Linked DNA regions of Homo sapiens: all the other regions are linked to region 2. Evidence: fine-mapped expression QTL. A gene starts in region 2. Each other region holds a variant in brackets. All regions are shown on one strand. Distances are from middle to middle. Region 1 holds the start of NSFL1C (NSFL1 cofactor). Region 2 holds the start of SIRPB2 (signal regulatory protein beta 2). Region 3 has its middle 35 kb from the start of NSFL1C.

Region 1 (2,760 bases), 24 kb before region 2:
GCTTTACCGAATTCTTATGTTTGGGGAGTAATTTACGTTTGGCAGCAGACTCAGTTCAAATTCCAACCCCGCTACTTACTGGCTATGTGACCCTGAGCAAATTCTTTGCCCTCTGTGCTTCCAATTCCTCATCCATAAAATGGGTCTAGTCTTTACCTCATAGTGTTGCTAGGATCCAACGAATCATATTATGTAAAGTGCTTGGCACATGGTGGTTTAAAGCTTGGGCTCTGTCTGCTTGCAATCAGACAGAACTGGGTTCCACTTCTACCTCTTCTGCCTGGTAGCTAGTGAGGCCTTGAGCAAGTTACTTAACCTCTTTAATCTCAGCTGCAAAATGCGAAGGTTAAATGACAAAAGACATGTAAAGCAGTCAGAACAGCGCTTGGCTCATGGTAGGTACTCAATAAATATTAGTCATCACCGTCATCATCTACCTAAGACGAAGCTGGCCAAGAATATTTATGCAATTCTTTCTACAGTTAATTACCGAATGCTTATTATGTGCCAGGCATTGTTCCAGGCACTGGGAATTCATCAGTGTACAAAAATCCCTGCCTCGTGAAGCTTAAGTCTTCTTAGCAAGTATTTAGTGAATACTCAGTACGTGCCAATGAACTACACAGCAATTTCCACGAGACTCCCATTTTACAGATAAGTTAACTACGCAAGGTGAAGAAGCTCCAACCTTGCGCCACCACCCCAGAGGTATTCTCCCAGCAATTAGGAAGGCTGGGCGGCGGTCAACTCCCGGGCTGGACTTCGGAAGTGGAAATGAGCGGCCACCTAGTCCCGAGTGGGGCTTCACCCAAGAGCTGCTCACTCGGACCAGCCCGGCCTCCAGCAGATACTCGGCGCGGCAGCCACGCCCCCAGGCGCTCCCTCTCCTCGCCGGCTGCCGCAGCGCCCGAAGTCTCGCTGACGCCGCAAGCGGGCGAGGCAGGGTGAAACTGGCACGGCAGAACTGGCTGGGGCTGGCCCGCGTTCCCCCACTCCCAAGCCGAGCAGGCGACGCGTGACAAGCGGTCCCGGGACCATGAGGCCTGGGTCGGGCCGCGGTAGAGCGGGGATGACTGTGCGCTTCGGCCGCCGCGGGCTTAAGGCACCAGGCGCCCGCTCCCAGCAGTCCCCGGCCCACCCGACACAGCCCGCCGCGCGGCGCTACCTGCAAGTCCCAGCCGGCCGACTCGAGAAAGAAGCGGGCCCGGTCCTCCTCGGCGCCCGTCACCGCCACGAACTCCCTCAGCGCCTCCTGTCGCTCCGCCGCCATCTTCGCCCCGTGCGCCTTCCAAAGCGCTCCGGCGGCCGCCGCACAGGCCCAGCCCCGCTGCCGCGTTCCGCTTGCCGGTCGACGAGGCCCAGCCGATGAGGGCCCAGCAGCTGGGAGCCCGCCCGCAGCCCCGCCCCACGCGGTGCCTCACGCAAAGCCCTCCGTGCGGGAAGCCCCGCCGCTCCGCGCCCTCTGGCGAC[C/T]GCGGCGCGAACCGCAGCCTAACGGCGGGGGTGGGAGCCCGAAGGATGAGAGGCGGGGCGGGTCTTACATACACCTGTGGGCTGAAGGCTCCCTGCAGGAGTCAGATTCCCAGTTATTCATTGACGCAGCCCTCATTTCATTAATTGTGCATTCGTTCATTCACTTACTTGTCAAGCATTTACTGAGAGCTATCAATGGCCCGACGTTTTTCTAGGGCTGTGGATATGGCAGGGAGCAAAACAAAGTCCCTGCTCCCATGCTTCTTACATTCTAGGGGTAAAAATTCAGACCTTGAACAGGCTAGGCCTCCGCTCACAACACGTCCATGCCTCGTTATCTCGCCCCGCATAAAAGACAGTCTCATGGCCTGCCTGCAGGACCCATGAGAGATGGGCCAGTTCCTCCCTCTCATCAAGGGATCCGCTAGCTTCCTCTGCTCCAGGCGCCTTGCCCTCCTTGCTGTTCCTGGAACTTGCCAGTTATCTTGCATTTGCCTCAGGGCCGTTGCATTAGCTGCTTCTGTGCCTGGAGCACCTTTCCCTTACCGATGGGCAAGGCGCTCTCCCCGCTTTCTTTGGGCCTCTGCTCCAAGGCCACTTTCTTAGGCACAATCCTGTCTTCTGGGTCCTCAGCTTCTTTGCCCTCTTGCCTCTCCAAAGAGGAACTTACTTGTTCAGCTTACTTGTTCTTTGTTCTCTATTTTCAAAGCCTAACTTCCTTGTTCTTTGTACCTCCTTACCCCTAGTTACGGTAAACAACCTTCCCGCGGGTCCTAATCTATAACTCACATCTGTTCCCTTGGATACCCTCGCTACAATTGCCATTCCCGCGGAAACTCTTCTTCCTGCCGAAACCGCTTGCCCTACCACTGTAGCCCACATTTCTGCTCCATTTGAACTAGCCAATCGGGATTAGCTTAGATTGCGCAGTCCAGCCCCAGCCAATGGGAACAGGACACAGAAGCAGCGACTAACCGCATTAGGGATAAAAACCCCTTCTCTCTTTTGTTCGGTGTGCTTTCCTGAAGACCAGATGTGTGAGTGGCACCCTTCTGCAGAAGTAAATTGGCTTTGCTGAAAAATCTTTTATTTCAGTGCTGGTTTTCCTTGAGACTTCGAGCTTTAATTTCCAACACCACCGTGGGACACTCTTCCCTTCCTCTTCCTCTGTCGGCCCCTGCTCATTCTTCAGCTCTCAGTTCAGGTGTCCCTTTCTCAAGGAGACCTTGAGAAGGTGCCCAGGCTTAGTCAAAACCCCTCTTAATCAGGTTATGAACAGCACAAAGTCCA
Region 2 (2,760 bases):
CCTTCTAAGCAGGAGGCTCTGTGCCACTATATAGAGGGCACACCCAAGAACCAGCCCTGACTCAGCTTGAGATGCAGCTGGACTCAAACATTCCAACTGACTGGTTTAAGCAACTTCTCTTATTTTCCATCTATTCTATTGCAACAATCATTGGGAATATTTTTTATTCTGAGTAGTTTAGATTTCTGATTTCCTAGTCTAGTGCCTAAAACATAGCAGACACTCAAAAGTACCTGTGGAATGAGACCTAGCAATTATGATTCACATCTTAGAATTGAGGAAATCAGCTTAGAGAATTGAAGTGGTGTCTTGAGTCATACGGCCAATGAGTAAGGGAGCACCTAGGTCCGACCCCACACCTGGGTTCTGCCAGGATCTCTCCTGGGGATGGCCACCCCGGAGGACCAAAGATGTCATGGACAGAATCTAGATCTCAGTAGAGCCTGGAGCAGAGGCCCAGATGGGCAGGAGATGGAATGAGCCCACTGAGAGCCAAGTATCCCTGCCTGGTAGATCAGAGAGTTCTGGACTCAGAGGCTGAGCTATATATTCAGGGGTCTCAAGACTCTGGAGCTAACCTGGCCTGCCCCTGAGTTAGAGGAAACATGGGAATGATAATAATAATCGCCAAGAGTTATCAAATCTTTGTTATGCCAGGCACTTATGGGTATTATCTTGTTAAATTCTCCTAAGAAAGTCCCAAGGTGGGTCCTATTTTTAGCTCCATTTTACAGTTGGAAAAACTGAGGCTCAGAAAGAAATTACTTAAACTGGTTAGTGGTGAGGTTTGAGCCTACTGCGTCTTAAGCTGAGCCAGGGCTGGTTCATGGCTGTGCCATCTATGTAGTCGCACAGGGCCCTGTGCTTAGAAGGAGCCCATGCTTGGTTTACTGCTCTGCTGTGTTGCTCAATACTTTTTGAACAAAAGACCGCAGTTTTCATTTTGCAGTGGGTCTCATAAACTATGCAGCCGGCCCAGGGCTGAGCCTCACCACTTTTCTATTTAATACTCACAGTAGCCCTAGAGAAAGGTCCCATGAGCGTCCCTGTTTTGTAGAAGAGGCTCCTGGGGCTAAAAGAGCTGCAGCATCTGACGTGGGCATAGGAGCAATCAAGCTGGAAGCCAGTGGGTGTGAGCGCAGAGCCTGGGAGCTTATCACTTCACTACGCTGCTTCTTGGGACACTGGGGGTGCCCTCTGCCGGAGTCAGGCAAATTTTCAGTGGACCCCTCTTTACTCTATCTTCATGGGGTCAAGCTTCTTCAGGCATGGCAGAGCACTTAGTGCCCCTCTAGGGACTGACCAGCCGGGGGTGGACCCTGTTCTATCCTAGACCCCACTTACCTGAGGGGACAAGGACCAGTGCCAGCAGCAGGAAGCAGGGAGGCAAGTGGGCCAGGCAGGTGGGGGCCGACATCGTGGAGCACATGGCATCTTCTGTGGTCCCCAAGACTTGGGGCTCCTCTGCTCTCTTGTGAGTGTTGGAGTCTGAGGCGGGGCCCGTGGACAAGGCAGTTTCTGCGTCTCTTGGCCACAGCTGCTTGGGGAAGTGTTTTCATTGCAGCAACACAAGGCTGTTGGTGCAATAGGAAGGAGCCCGGTCAAAGGGTTTCCTGCTTTTGTGTCTGGGCTGTGATTCCTGTAGTCACTGTGCTAAAACCTTGCCATAGGCTCCATCCTAGGTGCCCGGGAGGGAGGTGGGCACTGAGGTCATAGGACGCACTCCAGAATCGGGTGGAATTTGGAGCAAACATTGGATCTTCCTCTTCTTGGCTGTGCAAGATTTCAAAGTCACTTCCCATTTCTGAGCCTTTTGTTTCTTCATCTGCAGCGTAGGAACAACGGCAGTTCCCTCCTCAGAACAGTTTTGGTAAGATTATGAGAAATAATGTGAGGGCACAGAACAATGTAAATGCTAAACATATTAACCATTATTATTCATGATGTGCAGAAAGTAGAGGAGGTGACATTGCTTAAGAAGAAGGATTTATTATAAAGCAAGCCCCATGGGGGCCTCCTTTTAGCACTGCAGGGAGGGTACAGGCCTAATTCCTAAAAGTATAATCATGTGTAACTCTCTCAGCCTCTGTTTCCTGGGGTCCAAGTGAAACATACTCAGATTGTGCAAACATTTGCGTTTGTGGCATCTTTGTTTCCTGTAAGTGATCTGAACTTCCTCAGGAGCCTCCTGGTGCTGGCTATCAAGAAGGAAAAGCTTAATCTTGCCAATTCATGCAATCCAGGCAATCTCTTTAGCCACACTGTCTGGGTTCAAATCTTGGCTTTACTCAGTCTGGCTGTGTGACCTTAGGACAATCATTTGACCACTTTATGCCTCGGTTTCCTCATCTGTAAAACAGGAATAAAAATGTGGTAGCATGTGTGGGGTGGAGTAAGCACTCTATAGGCTTTCACCATTGTCTTTTAGGTTAACTCAGTCTTTTAATTAACTCAGGGAAAAGTACAAGAACAACTCAGCCTTTCATTATTTCACTTCCTCCCTCATGCTTCAGAAGGTTCTGGGTGCAGAGGAAGCTGAAGATTCTCCAGCAACAGGGTGGCAGGCCTTGGATCTGAGTATGTCCCCTGGGTCCCAGAGGTCTGGTGTCTACTATGAGGAGGTTAGTCTGGCCTGGTCCCCAAGGACTTTGCACTGGGTCTGTGACTGGTCTTTTCTAGACTTTTGAGGCCTTGCATTGATACCCCTGCTCAATTCCATTACTCCCTCTACTTGTTCTCCTGTCAATGAGATCTATATAG
Region 3 (2,760 bases), 59 kb before region 2:
TATGGGAACATCCATATCCTTAGAAGCCAATAAAAAAGAGGATTCTAAATGCTAGGTGGTTGGCTAAATGTTCCTGATTTATACTGAGTGTAAAACAAAATAAAACAAAACATAAGGTATATGTGTTAAGTAGTGACATCTACATAGTTCCAAAGCACTGGCAACTATTAAAATATCATCCAGCTAAAACAAACTTTTCACAATTTTTTTTAACAGAAAAATAATAAACCAACAACAAAAACTGGTAAATGTTCTGGGTCTTGTGAGCAGACCAAAATGTTACTACAGTGTTCTCTATTGTGTGATCCCAGTGTACAAGTTTCTATTTCTCCATATCCTTATCAACATTTGCTATTTTCCATGTTTTTGATTATAGTTATCCTAGCGGGTGTGAAGTGGTTTATCTCTTGCAGGTGTTAAGTGGTATCCCACTGTGGTTTTCATTTGCATTTCTTTAGTAACAAATGATGCTGAACATGCTTTCATGTGCTTATTGGCCATTTGTATGTCTTCTCTGGAGATATGTCTATTCAGGTTCTTTGCCTATTTCTTAATTTTTTTTTTTTTTTTTGTGGTTGAGTTTTAAGTGTTCTTTATATATTCTGGATACAAGTCCATTATTTGCAAATACTTTCTCTCATTTTGTGGGCTGTGTTTCTACTTTCTAGATAATATATTTTATTGTGCAAATGGTTTTACTTTTTATGAAGTCTAATTTATCCATTTCTTCCTTTTGTTGCTCATGCTTTTGGTGTCAAATCTAAGAATCCATTGCCAAGTCTGAGGTTATAAATATTTACTCCTATGTTTTTCTCTAAATAGTTTACCCCTATGTTTTCCTCTTGTATTTGGGTCATTGATCCATTTTGAGTTAATTTTTGTGTATGGAGTGAGGTACGGGTCCAGCTTCATTCTTTTGCCTGTGATTATGCAGTTGCCCCGGCACTGTTTGTTGAAGAGACTATTCTTTCCCCATTGAGTTGTGCTGAACACTTATTGAAAATCAATTAGCCATAGATATTTATTTCTAGGCTGTCAATTATATTCCACTGGTGTATATGTCTGTCCTTATGTCAGTACCACACTGGTTTGATTATAGAAGTTTGGAGCATGTTTGGAAATCTGGAAGCATGAGCCCTGAAACTTTGTGTTTCTTTTTCTTTCTTTTTTGGTGTGTTTCTTTTTCAATAGTATTTTGACTACTTGGGGTTCATTCCAGTTCCACATAAATTTGAGGATTAGTTTTTCTATTTCCTTAGGAAATGCCATTGGAATTTT[G/C]ATAGGGGTTGCATTGAATCTGTGGATCATTTGCAATTAATATTCCAATACATCAACATGTGTTGTCTTCCATTTATTTAGGTCTTCTTTAATTTCTTTCAGCAATGTTTTGTAGTTTTCAGCATAGAAGTCTTTCTCCTTGGTTTAAGTATTTTACTCTTTTGGATGCTGTTATAAATGGAATTGTTACTTAATTTCATTTTCAGACTGTTCATTGCTGATGCATAGAAAATGGACTTTCGTGCACTGATCTTGCAATCTGCAACTATGTTGAATTTGTTTATTGGCTCTAGTAGTTGTGTGCATTTTGGTATTGTTATATTTTCTATACATAGAATTATTTCATCTTCAAATAGAGATAACTTTACTGCTTCCTTTCCAGTTTGGAGGCTGTTTATTGCTTTTTCTTGCCTAACTGCTCTGGCTAGGACTTCCAGTACAATATTTAATAGTAGTGGTAAAAATGGGCATTCTTGTCTTGTTCCTGCTCAGTGGGGAAGCTTCTGCTCTTTTACCATTGAGTATAATGTGAGTTGTGGGTTTTGTGTAAGTGACCTTTATCATGTTAAGGAAGTTCTCTGTATTCTGATTTGTTGGTGAGTGTTTGTATCCTGAAAGTGTTTGAAGTGTTGAATTTTGTTGCATGCATTTAATGTATCTATTGTGATATCATTTCCCTCTTTACAGAGTTGTGTTACATTGATGGATTTTTTTTTTTCTTATGTTGAGCCACCCTTGCATTTCTGGGAGAAATCCCACTTGGTCATGATCTATAATCCTTTGAATGTGCTACTGGATTTGGTTTGCTATTTTGTTGAGGATTTTTTGAGTCTATATTCATAAGATATACCGGACAGTCGTTTTGTCTGCCTTTGATATCAAGGTAACGGTGGACTCATAGAATCATACCTTTGATATCAAGGTAACGGTGGACTCATAGATATTCTGCATTTATATTTTTGTAATCACAATTTGTAAAGAATTCTCAAAATCCAACAGTAAGAAAACAAATAATCCAATAAACAAAAAGGCAAGGACTCTTTTTTTTTTTTTTTTTGGAGACGGAGTCTTGCACTCTCACCTAGGCTGGAGTGCAGTGGCACCATCTCGCCTCACTGCAAGCTCCGCCTCCTGGGTTCACGCCATTCTCCTGCCTCAGCCCTCCAAGTAGCTGGGACTACAGGCACCCGCCACCACGCCCGGCTAATTTTTTGTATTTTTAGTAGAGACGGGTTTTCACCATGTTAGCCAGGATGGTCTCGATCTCCTGACCTTGTGATCTGCCCACCTCAGCTTCCCAAAGTGCTGGGATTACAGGCATGAGCCACCATGCCTGGCCGGCAAGGACTCTTAAAAATGCTTTATCAAAAAGGATTTATGGGTGGCAAATGGCATATGAAAAGATGTTCAGCATCATTAGCATCACAAGACATGCTAATGTCAAAACCATGACAAGAGATAACTACACACCTATTAAAATGA

The links. PIP is the estimated chance that this variant, and not a neighbour inherited with it, causes the effect.
Region 1: its variant is fine-mapped to the expression of SIRPB2 in whole blood (INTERVAL, PIP above 0.99).
Region 3: its variant is fine-mapped to the expression of SIRPB2 in whole blood (INTERVAL, PIP above 0.99).

The regions. Positions count from the first base shown.
Region 1 is chr20:1,465,555-1,468,314 of GRCh38, forward strand. It overlaps NSFL1C (NSFL1 cofactor), which reads right to left and starts at 1,295. Exons shown (of 9, transcript NM_016143.5): 1 at 1,166-1,295. The coding sequence starts at 1,270. RefSeq lists an enhancer at 524-1,025 and a silencer at 1,320-1,589. The variant C/T (reference allele first, on the strand shown) is at 1,471.
Region 2 is chr20:1,489,931-1,492,690 of GRCh38, forward strand. SIRPB2 (signal regulatory protein beta 2) reads right to left here and starts at 1,490. Exons shown (of 5, transcript NM_001122962.2): 1 at 1,345-1,490. The coding sequence starts at 1,429.
Region 3 is chr20:1,430,915-1,433,674 of GRCh38, forward strand. No RefSeq gene overlaps it. Among named protein-coding and RNA genes, the nearest start is that of NSFL1C, 35 kb to the right of the region's middle. The variant G/C (reference allele first, on the strand shown) is at 1,279.